Linked DNA regions of Homo sapiens: all the other regions are linked to region 1. Evidence: fine-mapped expression QTL. A gene starts in region 1. Each other region holds a variant in brackets. All regions are shown on one strand. Distances are between the middles of the regions.

Region 1 (5,226 bases):
CTGGAACGTACCCAAATGCCCAACCATGGTAGACTGGATATATGAATTGTTGTATGTCTGCACAAAAGAACATTGTACATCAAGAATGATCTGGCCGGGCACGGTGGCTCACACCTGTAATCCCAGCATTTTGGGCAGCCGAGGTGGGTGGATCACAGGGTCAGGAGATCAAGACCATCCTGGCTAACACGGTGAAACCCCATCTCTATTCAAAATACAAAAATTAGCCGGGAGCGGTGGCGGGCACCTGTAATCCCAACTACTCGGGAGCCTGAGGCAGGAGAATCGCTTGAACCCAGGAGGCAGAGGTTGCAGTGAGCTGAGATCACGCCACAGCACTCCAGCCTGGGCAAGAGCAAGATCCGTCTCGGAAAAAGAAAAAAAAAAAGATCTACAACTATACTCAACAATACGGAAAAAAAAAATCACAAACATGATGTTGAGTAAGAAACCTAGAAACAGCCTGGCGCCGTGGCTCACGCCTGTAACCCCAGCACTTTGAGAGGCCGAGGTGGGCGGATCACCTGAGGTCAGGAGTTCAAGACCAGACTCAACACGGAGAAACCCAGTCTCTACTAAAAATACAAAATTAGCCAGGCATGGTGGTGCATGCCTGTAATCTCAGCTACTCGGGAGGCTGAGACAGGAGAATTGCTTGAACCTGAGAGGCGGAGTTTGCAGTGAGCCTAGAACGCGCCATTGCACTCCAGCCTGGGCAACAAGAGCGAAAACTCCGTCTCAAAAAAAAAAAAAAAAAAAAAAAACCCAAAACAAAAAAACAGCTAGAAACAAAAATAAGTACAAAAATAAAGTACAGAAGTAGGCAAAACTAATCTATGATGTCACAAGTCAGGTAGGGAGCATTTATTGGAATCAAGCGTGGCCAGGTATATTCAATTTCTTAATTGTTAGTGACAGGTGTGTAGTTTGGAAAATTCATCACCTGAACACTTATGATATATCCACCCTTCTACAGGTATAGCACACTTCACTAAAAAGAAGGCATTACAAACACCAGATGGTTGGAAACCACCCTCTGAGAAGGCTAGGCATCTCCCTTACCATCTCAGCAAAACTTTCTTCCGGAGAAACCCCAGCACACAACCCTGGGGAAGCTGGCAGCGCCCAGGAAGCCTGACTGGTCCCAGGGCATCAGGCATCAAAATCACTGAGAGGGAGTTCTTTCAAATATGTGTAATCCGGCCGGGCGCAGTGGCTCACGCCTGTAATCCCAGCACTTTGGGAGGCCGAGGCGGGTGGATCACCTGAGGTCAGATTGAGACCAGCCTGGCCAACATGGTGAAACCCCGTCTCTACTAAAAATACAAAAAGTAGCCGGGCGTGGAGGCAGGCGCCTGTAATCCCAGCTACTCAGGAGCCTGAGGCAGGAGAATGGCGTGAACCCGGGAGGAGGAGGTTGCAGTGAGTCGAGATCGCACCAGGCTGGGCGACAGAATGAGACTCCGTCTCAAAATGAAATAAATAAATAAATAAAATTGTCTTCACATATACGGGATCATACAGCACCTGCCTGGATTCTCTTCAAAAACAAAACTTCCAAAGCCAACATGTAAAGCCTCGCAGAAGCCTGTCTCGGAATAACGGACATTCCTTTTCCTCCCCATCAGGACCTTTGGGAAGCGCGCCCTTCAAATGGGAGGTGAGGAGGCAACCATCCGAATCCAGGTCCCGCCCGCCTCCCGCGGGAATCCGACCGCGCCGCCCCGGCCGCATCCCCCGCAGCTCCGAAGCACCTGCGGGGAAGGAGGTCACCTTCCCTGGGCGCTTTAAATCATCCAGTGCTTACACCTGGATTCCGACATGGGAAAAGAAGTAAGATTTCCCTCAAAGGCCTCCCTTAAGTCCTTTGACTCCACCAAACACGAAGAAAAATCCCGGGGAGTGGGGGTGGGGAGAGTGACATTTTCCGATGGAAACCGACGGGAAAGGTGAGACCTGCACCCCACCCGCGCCACTCGCCACCAGAGGCGTCGGAGACGCCGGCTCCGCGGCTCCAGTAAACCCAAGCGAAGTCAGCTCAGCCACGGGCTACCTACTAAAGACCCTGAAAGGAACAGGGGGCAAAACGGGGTTCTGGGCAGGGCGTCAATCACGCTGTGGGGAAAATCCCGATAACCGTGGAGCCCGCAGGGAGCCAGGGAACCCGAGTGGGCGTGGCGCGCGGGGAGGGGCGTCCGCGCAGGAGGCTGGGGTTCTGTGCCGTCTCCCACCGACCTCGACCTCGGCCCGGGACGGCCGGCTGGGAGCGGTCACAACCCGGGGGGTGGGGGAGCGCGAAAGGCCAGGAAGGTGGGAGCCGGTTCGGGCCTGGTCCGGACCCCGGCTCGGGCTGGGAGCAGCGGCGAGGGCCGGGGCCGGGGGCTTCGGAGGGGAGCTCGGGCGGGGCCGGGGTCCCGGGTGGAAGGCCTGGCCGGAAAGGGGCGCCCAGGAGAGGCCTGAGAGCCGGGGACCCCGGGCTGCGGGAAGGCCCGGCCGGGCAAGGCGACAGGGCCGCGCCTCCTCACCGTGGTCCTGGTTGAAGCCGGCGTAGAGCAGCCCGTTGCCGTGAGGGTTACACGGCAGGAGGTTCATGGCGCCGCCGTGCTGGGTCGCCGCTCCTCAGCGCTGCATGCCTCTCGCTGGGGACGGCGGCCTGGTCCCTTCGGGCCGGCGCTGAGGCCGCCGCGGCCGGAAGTGCCGGACGTACGTGCGTGCGTGCTGGATGTGCGTGTGTGCTGGACGTGCGTGCGTGCGTGCTGGACGTCCGTGCGCGCGCCCGCGCCCCACCAGGGAGCCTATGGAGCGCCGAGCGCATCTAACCGAAGCGAGGCGAGACGAGGCGAGGCAGGGCGGGGAGGGGCGGGGCGGGGCGAGGCGAGGCGAGGCGAGGAAAGGCGGGGAGAGGCAGGGCGGGCGGGGCGGGATGAGGCGGGGAGAGGCAGGGCGGGCGGGGCGGGATGAGGCGGGGAGAGGCGGAGCGAGGCGGGGCGGGGAGGAGGGGGCGGGGCGGGGCGGGGCGAGGCGAGGAAAGGCGGGGAGAGGCAGGGCGGGCGGGGCGGGGCGGAGGCGGGGAGGGGCGGAGCGAGGCGGGGCGGGGAGGAGGGGGAGGGGCGGGGCGGGGAGGGGCCAGGCGGGAGCGCAGAGCACGTTCGCGGGAGGGTCTGGCCTTGTCATGCGCGGGGTCGCCGCGGGAAGGAGGATGGCCCGTTGAGGGCTTGGCACGGATACCTGACGGTCGGAGGAAGGGGGGAGAGCCGGTAAAGGAGGCTGACCCAAAACTGAGGCCCGGTGCATCATCCCTCATGAGAGGCAAGCCCAGAAGCGCCACAATACTAGGGTCCCCCTTCAGGAGACAGAGACCCCCAGGACACAGAGGGCCCCCAAGTCACTCAGCCCCCCCAGGACACGCAGCTCCTGCAGGACGCAGAGGGTGCCCAAGACACACAGTCCCCAGGACAGAGACCCCCCAGGACACAGAGGACCCCCAAGACACGCAGTCTCCAGGACACAGAGGTCCCCCCAGGACACACAGTGCCCCCAGGACACAGAGGTCCCCCAGGACACAGCACTCCCAGGACACACAGCCCCCCCGGGACACAGAAACCCCCCCAGGACACAGCCCCCCTAAGACACACAGCCTCCCCCAGTACACAGAGTCCTTTCCAGGGCACATATTCCCCCAGAAGACACAGAGGTCCCCCTAAGACACACAGCCCCCCCAGGACACACAGACCGCCAGGTCACAGAGACCTTCCCAGGACACAGGGACCTTCCCAGGACACATAGCCCCCCAGAGGACACACAGCCCCCCCACGACACAGCCCATAGAGGACACAACCCCTTAGTACCCCACCTAAAGGACAGGTGGCCCTCACACAGCACAGCCCCCGCAGGACTCCGGGACCCTCAGGTCACATTGCTCACAGGGCACAGTTCTCAACTCTTAGGGTCAGGCTGCTGGGGGCATCCTGGTCACAGAGCTTTGTCCCTGGGCTTGGCTCATGCAGTGGATGGCTGTGGAGGCCTGAGTGCTGGCCCTCGTGTCTCTTGCCCAGGGAGTCCTCTCCACTCCCCCTCCTCACTTTCCTGTCCCCTCCTAGGCTCTCCCTGTTCCCTGCAGCACACCTGATCTCCTAGGAGGTCCTGACACTGTCCCCTCGCAGCCACCTGCCTCCACCCCGTCTGTCATCCTCATCCCACCCTCGCCACTTGCCTGAGCTGGTGCTGACCTCTTAGCCATGGGGAGGAAGGAGCTGGACTGTAAGCTGAGATCACTGGCCCACTCGGGCCAGGCGGTCTCCGCATCGTGGGCATTGAACACCTCGATTCCCATACGAGAGGGGCTCCTCCCTGAGAGCGACCAGAAGCCTTCCGATGGCGGAGCGAGTTGGGCCGCCCCGGCTGTGACTAGGGCTCGGGGGCCCAGGTCCAAATCACAGAGCTGGGGCGAGACCTAAGTGCGGTCCAGGGGCTCAGCACCCTCTTCCCTGAAGGGCACTGGGTTCTCCTCTGTGCACACGTACCGGTACCTGCTGTGAGAAGTGTCACGTGGGGGAAGGAGAGAGGCGTGGGTAAGGGACATTTCCCTTCATTTCTCTGCTTGCCACCCTTGGGGCCTCCTTCAGTTCACATTTTACTCAGTCTCCCGGTGGCTGTACAGCCGGGGGCGGGGGCATGTGTGGACATCCACACACAGCGCTGGTTGTATCCTAACCAGGAAACTCAAAGCAGCCTTGCCCACCACAGTGCGTTGAATGGTGACCCTCTAAAGATGTGTCCTGGGGGGCTGAGGAGGGAGGATGGCTTGAGCCCAGGAGATTGAGGCTGAGGCTGCACTGAACTGAGATTGTGCCACTACACTCCAGCCTGGGCAACACAGCAAGACTCTGTCGCAAAAAAAAAAAAAAAAAAAGATAGGTCCACCCAGAACCTGAGAATAGGGGCTTCTTTAGGTAAAGAATCATTGCAGAAGTAATTAAGGATCTCGAGATAAGATCATCCTGGATTTGGGGTGGGCCTTAAAGCTGGTGACCGGCACCCTTGGAGGAGACAGGAATGGAGGAGATACAGGGGACAGCAGCCAGTGGGACTGGAGTGCTCAGCCCTAAGTCAGCAAGTGCAGGAATCGTGGGGTCACCAGGAGCCGGGAGAGGCATGAACGGTTCTTCCCCAGAGCCTCCCAGCCTGGGAAGGAACACAGGCTGTTGTCCAAGCCACCAGCCTGTG
Region 2 (5,226 bases), 35 kb before region 1:
GTCAGGCTAGTCCCGAACTCCTGACCTCGGGTCATCCGCCCACCTCGGCTTCCCAAAGTGCTGGCATTACAGGCGTGAGCCACCATGCCCAGCTCCGCCCAGGAGTTTGAGACGAAACTGGGCAACAACACAGGGTGACCCCCACCTCTAAAACAAAATCATAAAATTAAGAATTAGCTAGGTAGGCTGAGTGCAGTAGCCCACACCTGTAATCCCAGCACTTTGGGAGGCAGAGGCAGGCGGATCACCTGAGGTCAGGAGTTTGGGACCAGCCTGGCCAACATGGTGAAACCCCATCTCTTCTAAAAATACAAAAAATTAGCCGGGCGTGGTGGTGCACACCTGTAATCCCAGCTACTTGAGAGGTGGAGGCAGGAGAATTTCTTGAACCCGGGAGGTGGAAGTTGCAGTGAGCCGAGGTTGAGCCACTGCACTCCAGCCTGGGAGACAAAGCGAAACTCCGTTTCAAAAACAAACAAACAAAACATAAAGAAATTAGCCAGGCATGGTGGTGCATGCCTATGGTCCTAGCTATTTGGGAAACTGGAGCAGAAGGATCACTTGAGCCCAGGAGGGCGAGGCTGCAGTGAGCCTTGATTGCACCCCGGCACTCCAGCCTGGGTGACAGAGCCAAAAAAAAAAAGAAAAAAAGAAGCACGGCTGGGCACGGTGGCTCACACCTGTAATCCCAATACTTTGGGAGGCTGAGGTGGGAGGACTGCTTCAGGCCAGGTGTTCAAGACCAGCCTGGAGAACACAGACACCGTCTCTACAAAACAATAACAAAAATTAGCCGGGCGTGGTGGTGCACGCCTGTAGTCCCGGCTACTCAGGAGGCTGAGGTGGGAGGATCACGTGAATCCAGGAGACAGAGGTTGCAGTGAGCTGAGATTGCATCACCACACTCCAGCCTGGAGTGAGACCCTGTCTCAAAAAAAAAAAGGATAGGCAGCTGTCGTATATGCTGATAATGGTAAAAATAATGTGAGACATAAGTTCAAGTCCCTTGTGCAAATACTGAAACTGAGGTAGAAAAATGCTGATTTTCTGGAGTTACACTCTGCTATCAAGGTCAGGAGGACACCCTTTTCCACAGTATCTGGCCAGATCCTTGCCTGTTTTTTCCACATACCCGAGAGAGATTAGGAGATAATTAGCCCTCAGCTCGCATGCCCCAGAAGCGTCGTCAGACTCACCATCTGAAACATCTTACACAGATGACAGGCTTCTGGCTGGCAGCCAGCATGGACAACTCAAGATGGGGCCGCAGGTGTCTGTGGGAGGCTCAGAGCAAATGTCGGGGGATTCACGGCCTCTACAGACGGTGGCGTCTCTCTTGAACAGAGCTACAAAAGAAATGACATTTCACTAGATGCCACCTCAGTCTCAAGTCTACATTTGCTTTTGTTAAAACCCATTGTATGTCTACATTTTGGTGGATGTTGCGTAAGACAAATCATTTTAAAATTAATGCCAAAACCACAAAATCACTAACCTGATACGAAATTCCAGAATGCGGCAAGAATATTACAAGCTAAATTAGAAATAAGAATCCTCTATACATATACATCCAAAAAAAAAAAAAATCCCCAAGTATTAGTAGAATTCTTTTTTTTTTTTCCTGAGATAGAGTCTCTGTCACCCAGGCAGGCGTGCAGTGCTGCGATCTCGGCTCACTGCAGCCTCCATCTGCCCGGTTCAACTGATTCTCCTGCCTCACGCTCCCAAGTAGCTGGGACTACAGGCACGCGCCACCACGCCTGGTTAATTTTTGTATTTTTAGTAGAGACAGGGTTTCACCATGTTGGCCAGGCTGGTCTCGAGCTCCTGACCTCAGGTGATCCACCCACCTCAGGCTCCCAAAGTGCTGGGATTACAGGCGTGAGCCACCGCGCCTGGCGAATTCAGCAGTATTTAAGGATAACACACTGTGACCAAGTGGGCTTTCCCACAGGACAGCAAGGTTGGCTCAACATTCAAAAATCAACGTGATGCTCCACGTTCACGGCGTAAAAGATAGGTGTGATCATCACAACAGATGCAGAAAAGTCACTTAACAAAATTCAACAGCCATTCCTAGCGGCAGGCAGGGTCACCCCCAAGTCCCCACTCAATAAAGGAAAATCAGGAGGCATCCTCCAAGAAGACCCAGATGCTGGAATCGGCAGACAAGGACTTGAAAGCGCACAGAGCGCGTACAAATGGGCAGACACAAGTCATCAGCCACGAATTAGAAACCAACTTTAGAACTGACAAATGTATCTGAAATAAAAAAGGCGGCCAGGCGTGGTGGCTGTAATCCGAGCACTTTGGGAGGCCAAGGTGGGAAGATCGCTTGAGCCCAGGAGGTGGAGGAGAAACCCCGTCTCTACCAAAACAATTTTTTAAATAAAAATAGATGTTACGTTCAGGTGTGGGGTTGTCTGAGAGTGATCTTCTCTGGAGGTAGAAACACGGGGCAATTTTGCTTACAAATTTATATTTTTCTATTATTTTATAAGGAACTTTTTTTTCATTGTATTCTCTGATCCATCTGGAAGAGAAAAATTTTGGTACAAGTTTCAACAATGTCATCAACCAAATGCCTCTGACACAACAGAAGAGAGATGAGGACTAAGTCACGTGAAAGAGCTCTGGCATTCAGGGGCTTGGTTTGGTTGCAGAAAGAAAACACAAATATAAAACTCTTTGATCACAGAAGGCTGCAGATGGCCAGCGCCCCCGACTACAGTGGTGGGAGCGGGAGGTGGCCAGGGGTTCACACAGGCATCAACGCCAAACACAGGGTGGGTATGGGTCAGGGCTGCGTTCCACAGGGCACAAGCCGCCTGTCCCCGCAAGACATCCCAGGGCCACAGGGGAGGGAGGACAGACCAGAAACGCAGCCGGAGTCATCCATGCCCACGCACCTGTACGATCAGACAGGAAAGCTGCTGAGTAGGCACCGTCTGAGGCAGTCACTCTGGAGTCCCTTCGCACCCACGTCCGGGGCACAGGAGGTTCGTGGGGGAGG[C/G]AGCAGCCCGGCCTTGTTTCCCATACACTGCGCTTCCCATCAGTTCCACTTGAAAAGCAGCTGCGCTCCCGAGTCCGCCGGCCTAGGGACACCGTGTCCTTGCCGCTCTACAGTGATTTTTAAAAAGCACATGCCTGGGGAGGGCCGGTGCCGCCAGGGCCTCACATGAGGCACGTCCGTGCAGGCCCTCGCCACGTTCCTGGTGAACGGGCCTGTGACACAGCCCCGCCGTCCGCATCAGTTCTGAGGCTGTTCACGTGCACTGCGAGAAAACCCACCCTTCTTGCATGCATTTCCCCCAGATTCATGTTTATCAACTGGTAATTACGCTCCTACTCCCCCACCCAGAGTCAGATCTCAAGTGTTAGACAAGCCAGGGTGACGCCGGCTCACTTGAAGCTGCCACTTCAACATGCAGGGACATTGCTGCTGCCAGCCACCCTCCACCTCCACAGGCCAGCAGGAGCCTCAGACCTCCCAGAGCCACACAGGCCTCCTACAGATGCATTTCCTCCCTCCCTCCTCCAGAGGTGCCCTTGGGGCACAGGGAGAGAGGAGGGCAGGCCGCCCCGTCCCGACACAGGGAGAGAGGAGGGCAGGCCGTCCCATCCCCGACACAGGGAGAGAGGAGGGCAGGCCGCCCCGTCCCGCCACAGGGAGTGAGGAGGGCAGGCCGCCCCGTCCCGCCACAGGGAGTGAGGAGGGCAGGCCGCCCCGTCCCGCCACAGGGAGTGAGGAGGGCAGGCCGCCCCGTCCCGACACAGGGAGTGAGGAGGGCAGGCTGTCCTGTCCCGACACAGGGAATGAGGAGGGCAGGCTGTCCTGTCCCGACACAGGGAGTGAAGCTCCAGGCTCCGCACCCAGTGACCCTGGCTTCCACCTTGTCCTGTCACAGGCCGGCGCCTCTTCAGGCCCACAGGCTGTTCTGAAGCCTACACTCCAACCAGATTCTCACAGCAAGGGGAAGAGTGTTTGGCTTCATAACACACAATTCTACTTCCCATTACAGGTCCAGACTACAACAAAATTAGTCACTTTTATTTAAAAGAAACATTACAAATAAGTGTGCAAAATTAAACATCATGATTAAATACACATGAAAGGAACATGCATACTTTACAGCAACATCCACAGAGAATTAGCTGATTACATGACAGTGACAGTAAAGAACTAAAGAAACCGGCAAAACCGAGAACTCGCTGCTATGCAGGTTTTACATGTTTGCAATCTGAAATCAAAACCATAAAATAGAGTTTAACGGGAATTTAAGAAAATTAAATATATATCCCAAGTAGCTGACAATGTAGAGCCCATAACCTAGTTACCAAATGTTAAAAAAAGTTATGTGCCTCTCCTTCCCAAAATGTTAGTGTGTAGCTATTCTTACAAATGAGGGGAGGGGAGACGGTGGACCTGGGGGCTCGGAGGCCAGACCAGGGCATTTCCCTCCACACCAGCGGGAACTGCATGGACCCTCCCAGACCCTGCTCTGGCAGACGACCCCGAAGTTAAAGGATGTTTTCCCCATAACGAATGTTCAAAGTTCGTGCATCACTCTGCTGTTCCCTACACATAACCGGGAAACAGGTTTAATCCAAAATGTAACCAGGAGACCCCCCGTCCCCGCCCCGCACACGCCTGAGGTGTGACGGCTCGGCTTCTAGAGTGGCCTGGTGTCTGCCTCATTCTAATGGCCCCAACGGAGACGGGGACGCCACGCACGGGCACAGGTGACGTCACGGGCACAGATGACCACGTTGCGGGTACGGAGAAGACCACAGGCTGGGCTCACACGAGGGGAAACATTCACACTGTGTTCTCTCTACAGGGTCAGGTCATTTTTCTTCATGTTCGGGCGGGAAAAGGAATTCCTTTCTCCTTTTCTAAGGCAAGCTGCTGGTGTTGTATTCAATCTGCTTATCATGTAAGAACTTACATCTGCACACTTGTTCACTCCCCCGCTGCAGACTCAGTAAGAACGACGGAATCTGCTGCAAAAACAAACCTGAACTCGTCCACCCTCTCAGCCCAGTCCCCAGGTCCGTATGGAGCCCCCGTCAGTGTGAGGATGCGGCGGAGCCACTGAAGCTAACGTCACAGCTGAACTCATGGGAACAGCCAGTGGCCGCCAGTCGAGCTGGTCACAGCCACTGAGTTACCTACGGTGCCTTGATGATGATTCTCTCTTTAATACTGGAAATGGGAGTCCTTAG
Region 3 (5,000 bases), 20 kb before region 1:
CTCTCACCTTTGGGGTTATAGCAGGTTTCGAAGACGTGCAACTGATGGGGATTGTGTGTGAATGTGAACACCTTAATCATGGAGTCCAAAACCACCACAATTCTGGAAAGAAAAACATGATCAGAGTTGCTTTCCTCAAGAGTCAAACCCAAACATTTTATGCTCCTGTTCTTATCATACTGAAACTGAGAAACACTGAAAATACCACACAGAAAAGGAGTGTTCCTGAAGAAAAAGCTCTGGAGGCAGGTAGCCAGCGCCAGGCCTGGAGCTCGGCGAGTGCACGTGGGCTGGCTCTGCTGAGGGAGTGCTTCTCGCCTGGGTGAAGGTCAGCCTAAGAGACGTCTCTGAGGTTCAGAGAGACATCATCAAACACTCCATCTAGGTTCAGAACCGAGCAAAACAGACAGAAGTGATATTTTTATGCTACTGTGTCTGGAAAAAATAAGAAAAGTCTGAAAGTAGAATATCCTCGATCTGGCTCAAGCGTTTGCATTATTATTATTATTACTTTTTTTTTATAGATGGAGTCTCACTCTGTCGCTCAGGCTGGAGTGCAGTGGCACAACCTCAGCTCACTGCAACCTCCACCTCCAGTTCAAGCGATTCTCCTGCCTCAGCCTCCTGAGTAGGTGGGATTACAGGCGTGCACCACCATGCCCAGCTAATTTTTGTATTTTTAGTAGAGATGGGGTTTCACTAGGTTGGCCAGGCTGGTCTCTAACTCCTGACCTTGTGATCCGCCTGCCTCAGCCTCCCAAAGTGCTGGGATTACAGGCATGAGCCACGGTGCCCGGCCACATTTGCATTACTAAGGGCCTTTAAATATTGACGTTATTAAAATGACAAACCCACACAAAAATGCAGGAAAGTTGGCCGGGCGCAGTGGCTCACACCTGTAATCCCAGCACTTTGGGAGGCTGAGGCGGGTGGATCATGAGGTCAAGGGATCAAGACCATCCTGGCCAACATGGTGAAACCCTGTCTCTACTAAAGATACAAAATCAGCCAGGCTTGGTGGTGTGCGCCTGTAGTCCCAGCTACTCCGGAGGCTGAGGCAGGAATTGCTTGAACCCGGGAGGCAGAGGTTACAGTGAACTGAGATTGTGCCACTGCACTCCAGTCTGGCAACAGAGCAAGACTCTATCTCCCAAAAAAAAAAAAAAAAAAAAAAAAAGGGCAGGGAGGTGAAATGACCTCTGTTTACATCCAACTTGCTCGGCTGCTGTCCTCCCACAGCCGACAGAGATGGAAATCTTAGAGTAAAATATGCAAATCATATTAAATAAAAACCCAAATGAACGAACTCTGCGCTATCTTGCTCAACGTACTAGGACAAACTTCCATATTCCCCCTAAACGCCCCTGAGACCATGGCTGACAGAACCACCTGCTACTTTCAACACAGAAAATTCAATTTTCCTTTACCTTCAAACCGAAAACCTTTATTGAGAGGCAGCATTTGGCAAAGCAGGGGCTAAAAGCCCAGGGTAATTCAAGGCTCAAAACTCATGTCCTCAGCTCTGCACATGTCGGAATGGGACATAACTCACCACGGTGAGACCCACTGGCTGGTCCACTGTGGCGCACGTCATCCACGCCACCACCTACTTACCTCCAGCGGAGCCCTGGAAACAAACACAATTCGCTGCCTTTCTTGCAGCAATATAAATAATCCTTATATCCTTATGGTCATAAAAACCAGGACCAACATTTTAATACATCATTTCCTAAACATTTTTCTGCCAAAAATAGAAAAGTATTTCAGCCATCTTTTGAGAAAGTGAAATACCACTTTAAAAAATTACTGACACCAAACCCACCTATCTCGCCGCAGCTTGACTGCCTTGACTTCTGTAGAAAATTCTATTTCAATAACAGTCTTCTTCTTCAGGTCATCCCAGATCATTACTGAAATATCAGAAAGAAAAGATGAATGCAGTCATCAGCAGGCCATGGCGCTGGGATGCAGCGATGCCAGCTTGGCGCCTAAGGTGTTTTCTCTTCCCACTGGCACAGCTGCGCCCACCCTCAGGCCTCAGACACACACCCGCACCTGGGAGGCCTTGGGGTGTAACTCAAACCGTGAGCTGTGCCAGGGATCCGCCCTCGGGCACCTTCCCCACTCAAAGCGTCTCCCCTTCTTGGTAGCTGGCTGCCCACTTGCTCCCTCCCCGCCCATTCCTCTCTCAGTGTGCACAGCCCGGTCCTGTTCTCAGGTGACCCACTCACTGGCCTCACACACAGGCACGCTAAGCGCATTCATCTCTCTCTGCCAACCATTGCTCCCTCCCCGTCCGTTCCTCTCTCAGTGCGCACAGCCCGGTCCCGGTCTCAGGCGACCCACTGGCCTCGCACACAGGCGCGCTGAGCGCGTTCATCTCTCTCTGCCAACCCTTGCCCTTGCCTGGTTACGTTCCTCTCCCTGACCTTCCTTGATTCCACCCGACTGAGCCCATAGGCAAGCCTGACCATAGGTACTGATGTTAAAAGTGCTGCAAATAAACCTGCATCAGGAAGGGAGGTTTCAGTTTTAAAGTGAAATCAGAGGGACACAAATCAGGGCCAACAAGTTCCTCACTCCACTCAAGGTCCTGGGTTGTTCTTCCTCTTTTT[C/T]TGTTTTTCTTTTTGAGACAGGGTCTCATTCTCTCGCCCAGGCTGGAGTGCGGTGGCGCAATCTTGGCTCACTACAGCCTTGACCTCCCAGGCTCAAGAGATTCTCCCACGTCAGCTTCCCAAATGGCTGGGACTACAGGCATGCACTACCATGCCCAGCTAAGTTTTGTATTTTTGGTAGAGATGGGGTTTTACCATGTTGTCCAGGCTGGTCTCGAACTTCTGGGCTGAAGTGATCTGCCCACCTCAACTTCCCAAAGTGCTAGGACTGCACGTGTGAGCCACTGCACCCAGCCCCTGCTCCTTTTTAAGTTCAAAATTTCTTCTGTCTTGTTTGCCTGCTAACATTGCAACATTCTATTAGCATAAATTAGCAGTTTGTGTTCTAAGGGCTAATGTACCGACAAGCTTTAGGGATGAGAATGCCAACCAGCACCGTGCTTTTGAAGAACCACAGGAGGGATGGGTGCGGTGGCTCACGCCTGTAATCCCAGCACTTTGGGAGGCTGGGGTGTGAGATCGCTTGAGGCCAAGAGTTCAAGACCAGCCTGGGCAACATAGTGAGACTCCCATTTCTGAAAAAAAAAGTTATTAAAAATTAGTCACAGCTACTCAGGTAGAGTCCAGGAGTCTGAGGCTGCAGTGAGCTATGATCACCCCACTGCACTCCAAGCTGGGCAACAGAGGGAGACCCTGTCTCAAAAAAACACACAAAAAACACAGCTGGGTGTGATGGCTCACACCTGTAATCCCAGCGCTTTGGGAGGCAGAGGCAGGCGGATCAATGGAGCTCAGGAGTTTGAGACCAGCGTGGGCAACATGTGGAAACGCCGTCTCTACTAAAAACACAAAAGGTAGCCGGGTGTGGTGGGTGCTCCGGTACTCCCAGCTACTCGGGAGGCTGAGGCGGAAGGATCACCTGAGCCTGGGGAGGTAGAAGCTGCAGTGAGCCAGGACTGCGCAACTGCATTCCAGCCTGGGCAACACAGTGAGACCCTGTCTCAAAACTAAATAAATAAAAATCAAGTTTACTAGTAAAAAAAAGTACCTTTAAACGCTACAAAAAGTACATTTACTCAAAAACCTGCTGAATACTGCTTTCTTCTAAGTCTGTGAAGTTTCTAAGGCTTTTTCACCTCTTAGAAACTTTATAATGAGAATGAGACCTGAGATTATCTCATACAAATGGCTCCCTTGTTAGCACCTGGGGTCCCCCAGCAGTGCCAGAGGTAGGGCAAGGGAGGCGGCCCTCTAGGCCTCCTGACTTCCATCTATAAGCTTCCTTTCCTCCTTAATGGTCAATGAAGTTCTCCATGACAAGACACAGACCAATTCACCAGCAGGATTTCTGCCCATCCCCAATTAGCCAGGGCAAAGTCATTCTCCTGCAAATCCTGCCCTGCTCTCTCTGTGGAACCTCCGCTGTCCCTTCTGGGTGGGCTCCTCCAGAGGACTCACAAGCCACAGGCCTCTGCCCCTCTGGGCTATGCTAGCAGCCACTCTCAACTCTGCTTTAAAGCTGGCACAGACAAACCTTGTGAGATTACAGAACCGCTCAAAGGCCAAGATCTCAAGCCCTGTCTTCCACTGTTTTTCCTACCGATAATCTCTTCCCATTTCATTTCTCTGTTCCTAATTCCAAAACAAAAATAAATGTATCAGGCAGGGCCAGTCCTCACCCGAGTGTGGTCTCTCTTCCGCACATTCACGTTCACGCAGTTCACGGGGCTCTGCTGAGAACTGTGAGCTGGGCCCCAAAGCTTGTCACGAGTCATCTGGAACCTTCTGCCTTTCCACACAATCCTTTTGTGCCTGATCTGACCTGGGCTATTCTATTCCTAAGTACGTGATATCACCCAGATCCTAGTTCACCCACTCACTTCCCATTTGGCATGCGGCGCCCCCAGAGCCCCATCCTGGTCTTGATTCTGAACTGCCTCCCTCACTGAGCCTCTCCTTCCCTCCTCACCTCCTCCCACCCTACCCACCCACCACTGGGCTCCCACTCAGTCATCCTCTGAGACCACCGGTGGCCTTCAATGTCACCAGAACCAGATGGCTTTTCTCAGGCCTCCTCCCGCCTGGCACTGGGCTCAGACGAGGATGCTTGCTCCACTTTTCCTGCCTCTCCCCATAAACGGGGGCTTCCCACACCTGCCCCATCCTCTGGTGTCTCTTCACTCACCTCATGCACTGCATCTAGACCAGAACTTTCCCAAAACACAGATCTGACGGCATCTCCTTCCTGGCCACACGTTACCTGGCATTCAAGCCTCCCCCAGATCTGCCTCCCACCTCCCCCACCCAGCCTACCTCCCGCCTCCCACCTCTTCCCTGTGTTCTGCCCTCCATTCCTGGATCTTTCGCCTTGAGCCCTCTTTCCTC
Region 4 (5,128 bases), 430 kb after region 1:
TCAGAAACAGACTCCAACCCCACCATGTCTGTGACCCAGAGCTGGGGGCTGACGTCCGAGCCAGGTCCGTCCACCACCCCACAGGGCCTGTAGGCACCCGGCATAGGAAAGGCCGAGAAAGGGGTCCAGTCCCACAGCCCTCCACCCCAGCAAATTCCCAGGTGCTGGGTCCCTGCAATGCACGCGATAAAAACTCCCGGGTCAAATACACAGAGGTGACCCTGCCGAGGTCACTCGATCCTAACAGTGGGTCGTGGTCCTCGGACATGGGAGGCCACGTCCTGCTTTCTGAGGCCTCAGACCCTGGTGAGGCACAGAAGGACTGTCCAGGGTGCACCCAGAATTTTTTTCACGGACGTCTGCCCAGGAGGCTTCTGAGAGCTGTTTCTCGAGGGAATGGATAGATGAGGAAAGAGAGAGGGTTGATGTAGACCTACGGTTGGGCCACAGGCCCCCCTGGCCCAGGTCCCTTAGCTGCCATCTCCCAGGATGCAGAAGCATCACTGCAGGGCCCGCCGGTAGAGGGAATGGGCAGGCGTGATCCTGGTGGGTTCTGGAGCTCTCCGATTCCACGGCTCAGCCTCAACGTTCCGACTCAGGTAGGAAGTATCAGAGCTTCACGCAAAGCTGCGAAGACCAGCTCCTTCCCACGAGTGGGTGGGTGGGATGATGCTGTGGCCCCTTCCTGGGTCTAACCCCGTGACATGCTCACTGGGAAGCAGTCCCTTCCCAGACATCCAGGGACAAACACACCCAAGGCCCTTTCCTTGCAGACCCTCCCAGAGGACCAGGGGGAGGGCCACACACCATGACCAGCTGGGATCCTTTTGGTTCATAATCGGCCTCTCGGGGTCTGGTGGTACAAGGGGCAGTGTACCAGTGGCTGGGAACACCCCCAGACAGCCTTGACCACCTCAGCCTGCATCCTCTAGGAGCCTGATACCTCCTGACACCAGGAACCCCGTCTACAGGGGACGTCTCACCTGTAGGTGGCCTCGCTGGGCCAGGACAGGGGTCAGCAGAGGTGCCCAGGAGCACCCAATGTCTCTGGGGCATGAACCTCCTCAAGGGAACAGCTTGGGGAACCACAGCCCCAGGGTGGAAAGGGCCAGGCTCCTTTCCCAAGACAGATTAGCTTCTTCCGAGAATACTGGCCAGCAAGCATTCTTACTCTAGTTTTGTTTTGTTTTAATTAGCAGACTTAATGTTTTAGGTTTACAGAAACACCAAGCAGATGGTAGAGGTCCCCCACACACCCTCTCCCTGACCCAGTTTCTCTTATGATTACCTTCTCTCATTAGGGTGTAGGCGTGTGACAGTCAAAGAACCAATATTGATCCGTTATTATTACAAATGTCTCAAGCCTCCATCAGGATTCACTCTTGTGCTGTATTTTCTACGGGTTTTGAAAAGTACACGTGGGTCCCATACTCACCATCGTACGATCCCAGTCTTAGGACAGCCCGCTGGGCACAGGAGGCTGGGCATCCTGCCAGGTGGCAGATCTCTGCCCCAGCCTAGGCTGGAACCAGCTGCCTGCTGACCAGAGGCGGCCTCTCCCCTTCGGTCTAGCAGCCACCAGGGGCTCTGAGACCCTGAGCAGGTCACGGCAGGTCCTGAGTTCCCCATGTCCGCATCTATAACTCAAGAGATCCCAGCACTGCCCTGCCTCTTCCGTGGTGTGATGATCTGGACCCTGATAGGCCATGTGGCCCTTCAAGGGTGGACCGGGCCTGGGGGGGCTGCTATCTTATGCTTGGTGGGCATGGAAAGCAGTTGCTGCGCACAGGTGTGAAGCCGCAGGTCCCTTTCCACAGCAGGTCCCTTTCCACAGCAGGTCCCTTTCCACTGGGCACCCTGGTACCTGCAGTGATGGGGGTGGGGGGAGGTGCACTCCTAGAGCAGACGGGGGTGGGTGGGGCAGTCTCCAAGCTCCGAAATGCACCTCCACCAGACCTTGAGCCTCAGGGTGATGTCACTTGATGTGCTGGGCAAGGTCCTGGCTCCAGGCTTTCGATGGGGTGGGTGCTCTGAACAGATCCTTACAATGAAACTACCTTCAGTGGTCACTGTCATCGCCTTCCAGTTCTTCAGACCCTCACCCTTGTCCCAGCTTTCCTGGGCTGGGGGCTGGGCTCCACCTGCCTTTGCCGGTGACTTCCGTCCCTGCAGACTCACAATTTTCAAAGCCCTCTCCCCGCCTCCTCTGGTAGTCACAACCCAGTTATTCAGACTTGCACAGGTCGTTCGCAAGTCCTCCTGGAAGGTATCTTGGCTGGAAAAGGGGACAAGGCCAAGCTTCCCCACCGCTGGATGCTGCGCTCGGCTCTGGAACTGACACCAGGCGTCTCGGGCAGGGCCACTGACCCGCAGCACACAGAAGCCAGCTTTGCCATCGCAGCGGGGACCGCCGGGCGGGCCAGCTCCGCCCTCTCCTGCCTGGGGGGCCCTCGGCACCCTCTGGCTCCCCTTCTCTGGCCTGAGTCTCTAGGGCCTCCCCAGTCCGGGCGGGGGTCTCCGCTGTCCCCCC[C/A]ACTGGGTCAGGCACGTGGTGGCCGCGGTGACCACCTGGGGAAGGCGCCGACTCCGAGGAACACACTCGAGCAGGACGCTCCGCAGGTGATTCTGCCCCGCGGGCACGGGGTGGGGGCGGGATTTGGCCAAATCTGCAGAGAGTTTAGGTTGTCAAAGCTGGGGCGGGGGTTGCTACTGATACCCAGAGTGCGGGGGCCAGGGTGCTGCCAACATCCCACCATGCGCAGGACGTCCCCACCCCAAGAACCACCCGGCCCCGCGTATCCGGAGCGAGGAGTGGGCAGCGCTCGGCAGAGGCCCCGGCGCGGCGGCTGCACGTCCTCCGGGAGGAGGGAGGGAAGCCGGGCTCACCGCCGGGCCTCCCCCCCGGTCAGGAGGGAGCCGGGAACTCCCGAGGCACCAACTCTGCGGAACGCGGGGCGCCCGGATCGCCCCTGATCACCGCCCGCTGGCGAGGCGCGGGGGACCCAGAACCGGCGGGGCCGGGAGCCTCCTTTACCGCTCCGCGCCGGGGCTGCCCGCAGGATGGGGCGCAGGATGGGGCGCAGGATGCGGCCCCGGCACCGCCTCGCGGGGGTCTGCGGGGGGCGACCGCGGCTCGCGTCGGCCACTACTTGGGGGTCTCGGGTTTCCGCCCCGCCCTCGCCTTGCAACCCCTCCGGCCCCGGACTCCGCTTTCCAGGCCGGGCTCTTCCCTCCGGACCCCGCTCGCCGCCCGGCGCGGCCCCCTCCTCCTGCAGCGCCCCCCGCCCCGGCGCCCGCGCCCCCGATTCGCTGCTGACTCGGTGTCTGCGCGTCCGGCCGGGCGCCCCGGGAGGAGTTTCCGGCGCGGGGCGGGGTCGGGGGCGGGGTCGGGGGCGGGGCGGGGCGGCGGGTGGGCCCCACCCCCCAGCTGAGCCCGGCCGGGCGGACTCGGACTCGCCAACTTCAGAGGCTCGGCGGCGGCGGCGGGCGCGGAGCTCTGCGCGCGGCTCCAGCGGGCCGGGATGGGCGGGCGGCCGCGCGGAGGACGCGGGGGGCGCGCGACGTGACCACCCGGACTCGAAGCCCGCCCCGCCCCCGCCCGGCTCGCCGGCTCCGGGGTCTGCTCCGGGGGTCGCGGACGCGGGGCCGGGCGGCGGAGCCGGCGCCAGAGCATGCGGGGCGCGGCGCGGGCGGCCTGGGGGCGCGCGGGGCAGCCGTGGCCGCGACCCCCCGCCCCGGGCCCGCCCCCGCCGCCGCTCCCGCTGCTGCTCCTGCTCCTGGCCGGGCTGCTGGGCGGCGCGGGCGCGCAGTACTCCAGCGACCGGTGCAGCTGGAAGGGGAGGTGAGTGTGCGCGGCGCGACCCCGGCCCGGCCCCCTCCCCTCGCGTCCCCTCCCGTCCCGGGCCGGCCGAGCGTGCGGGGGCGCGGCCGGGGGCGGGCGCGGGGCAGGGGCTCCGGGGGCCGCTCTCCAGGCCCAGTCCGGTGCCCGCTGTCCCCCGCCCCCGGTTCTAGAACAAAAGAGCCCGCGGCGTCCCGGTTCCCGGCCCGGAGGACGCCCGGGGGAGGCGCGCCTGCAGCGCGGCCGGGTGGGTCCCGGCTCCGCGCGTGTCCGAGCCTCGGGGGCCGCCGGTCCCGCGACCCCATCCCGGGGGCAGGCGGGGGTCGGTCCTCGGGCCCTTCCTGGCAGGCTCCGGGAGTTGCGCGCCCCGAGGCCGCCCCGGGCCAGAGCGGGAAGGGACGGCCGCGGGAGGGAGCGGCGGTTTCGGGGATCGGGCGCGGACCGCAGCGGGGGCCACTTCCGTCTCGGGGAGCCGCGGGCGGGCACCTGTGAGCCGGGCCGAGTGTGGCTCCGGCCGGGCCCCCCGCCCCTGCCCCGTGAAGGTCAGGCCGCCCTTGGCCGCGGCGCGCGCTGCGCTGGGCGACCCCCCCCCCCCCCACCCGCGGTGGCGGCCGAGGACTTTTTTTTTTTTTTTTTTTTTTTGACTCAAGCGTGGCCGCCGAGAGCGGCGCCGACCGCGACTGCCCCTCGGGAGCCGCCGCCGCTCCCACGCGAAGCCCAGGGCGCCGAGGGCACCGCGGCCGAACCCGCCCTGCGCGAGCCTCGCAGTCGCCAGTTCCGGGGTTCGCAGATGCGCGGGGACCCGAGTGACGCGCGCCTCCCGGAGAGCCGTGGCCGGGCTGGCCCGGGCCTGGGTCCCGCTTCCCCTCGGCGCGGCCCCCGCCCCCGCCCCCGCCCCCGCCGCGGGCCGAGTCACGCGGTGATGTCGAGCGAAGCTGTTTTCCGAGAAGGTCGGGGCAGAGCCGGTGCGGGGCGGGTGGTGTCCGCGGGGCGGGCGCAGGTCTCCCCGCAGCCGCAGCCTCCGTTCCGGGTCCCCGCGAAGCCACAGTCGCCCCCCAGCGCCCCCGGCGGAGCCTCCCCGGGGGAAGGGGCGTGGCGCTGGGGGGCAGAGTCGCCCCGAGGGCCGTGGGCGGTGCCCGGCTGTCCCGGGAGCGGCCGCCTCCCTTCTCGGCCGAGCGGGGCCGCGGGCGGATGGAGGTCTGGGGGGGGTCGGCCGGGAACGCCGGCGCCGGGAGCCTCCGAGGCCGACGGCTCTTCTGGGGCCGCCCCTGCCCCCGCGGAGTGATTCAGCCC

What was found.
Region 2: its variant is fine-mapped to the expression of WDR45B in blood mononuclear cells (TOPMed, PIP above 0.99).
Region 3: its variant is fine-mapped to the expression of WDR45B in whole blood (TOPMed, PIP above 0.99). The same link has a PIP of 0.9 or more in neutrophils.
Region 4: its variant is fine-mapped to the expression of WDR45B in anterior cingulate cortex (GTEx, PIP 0.96).

What each region holds. Positions count from the first base shown.
Region 1 is chr17:82,645,749-82,650,974 of GRCh38, forward strand. It overlaps WDR45B (WD repeat domain 45B), which reads right to left and starts at 2,696. Exons shown (of 10, transcript NM_019613.4): 1 at 2,526-2,696. The coding sequence starts at 2,592. RefSeq lists silencers at 2,149-2,198, 2,209-2,258, 2,859-2,928 and enhancers at 2,341-2,840, 3,219-3,288.
Region 2 is chr17:82,610,546-82,615,771 of GRCh38, forward strand. It overlaps WDR45B (WD repeat domain 45B), which reads right to left. Exons shown (of 10, transcript NM_019613.4): 10 at 4,017-5,226. Among named protein-coding and RNA genes, the nearest start is that of FOXK2-AS1, 25 kb to the left of the region's middle. The variant C/G (reference allele first, on the strand shown) is at 3,014.
Region 3 is chr17:82,625,382-82,630,381 of GRCh38, forward strand. It overlaps WDR45B (WD repeat domain 45B), which reads right to left. Exons shown (of 10, transcript NM_019613.4): 4 at 1,823-1,910; 5 at 8-102. Among named protein-coding and RNA genes, the nearest start is that of WDR45B, 21 kb to the right of the region's middle. The variant C/T (reference allele first, on the strand shown) is at 2,616.
Region 4 is chr17:83,076,148-83,081,275 of GRCh38, forward strand. METRNL (meteorin like, glial cell differentiation regulator) reads left to right here and starts at 3,462. Exons shown (of 4, transcript NM_001004431.3): 1 at 3,462-3,838. The coding sequence starts at 3,669. The variant C/A (reference allele first, on the strand shown) is at 2,531.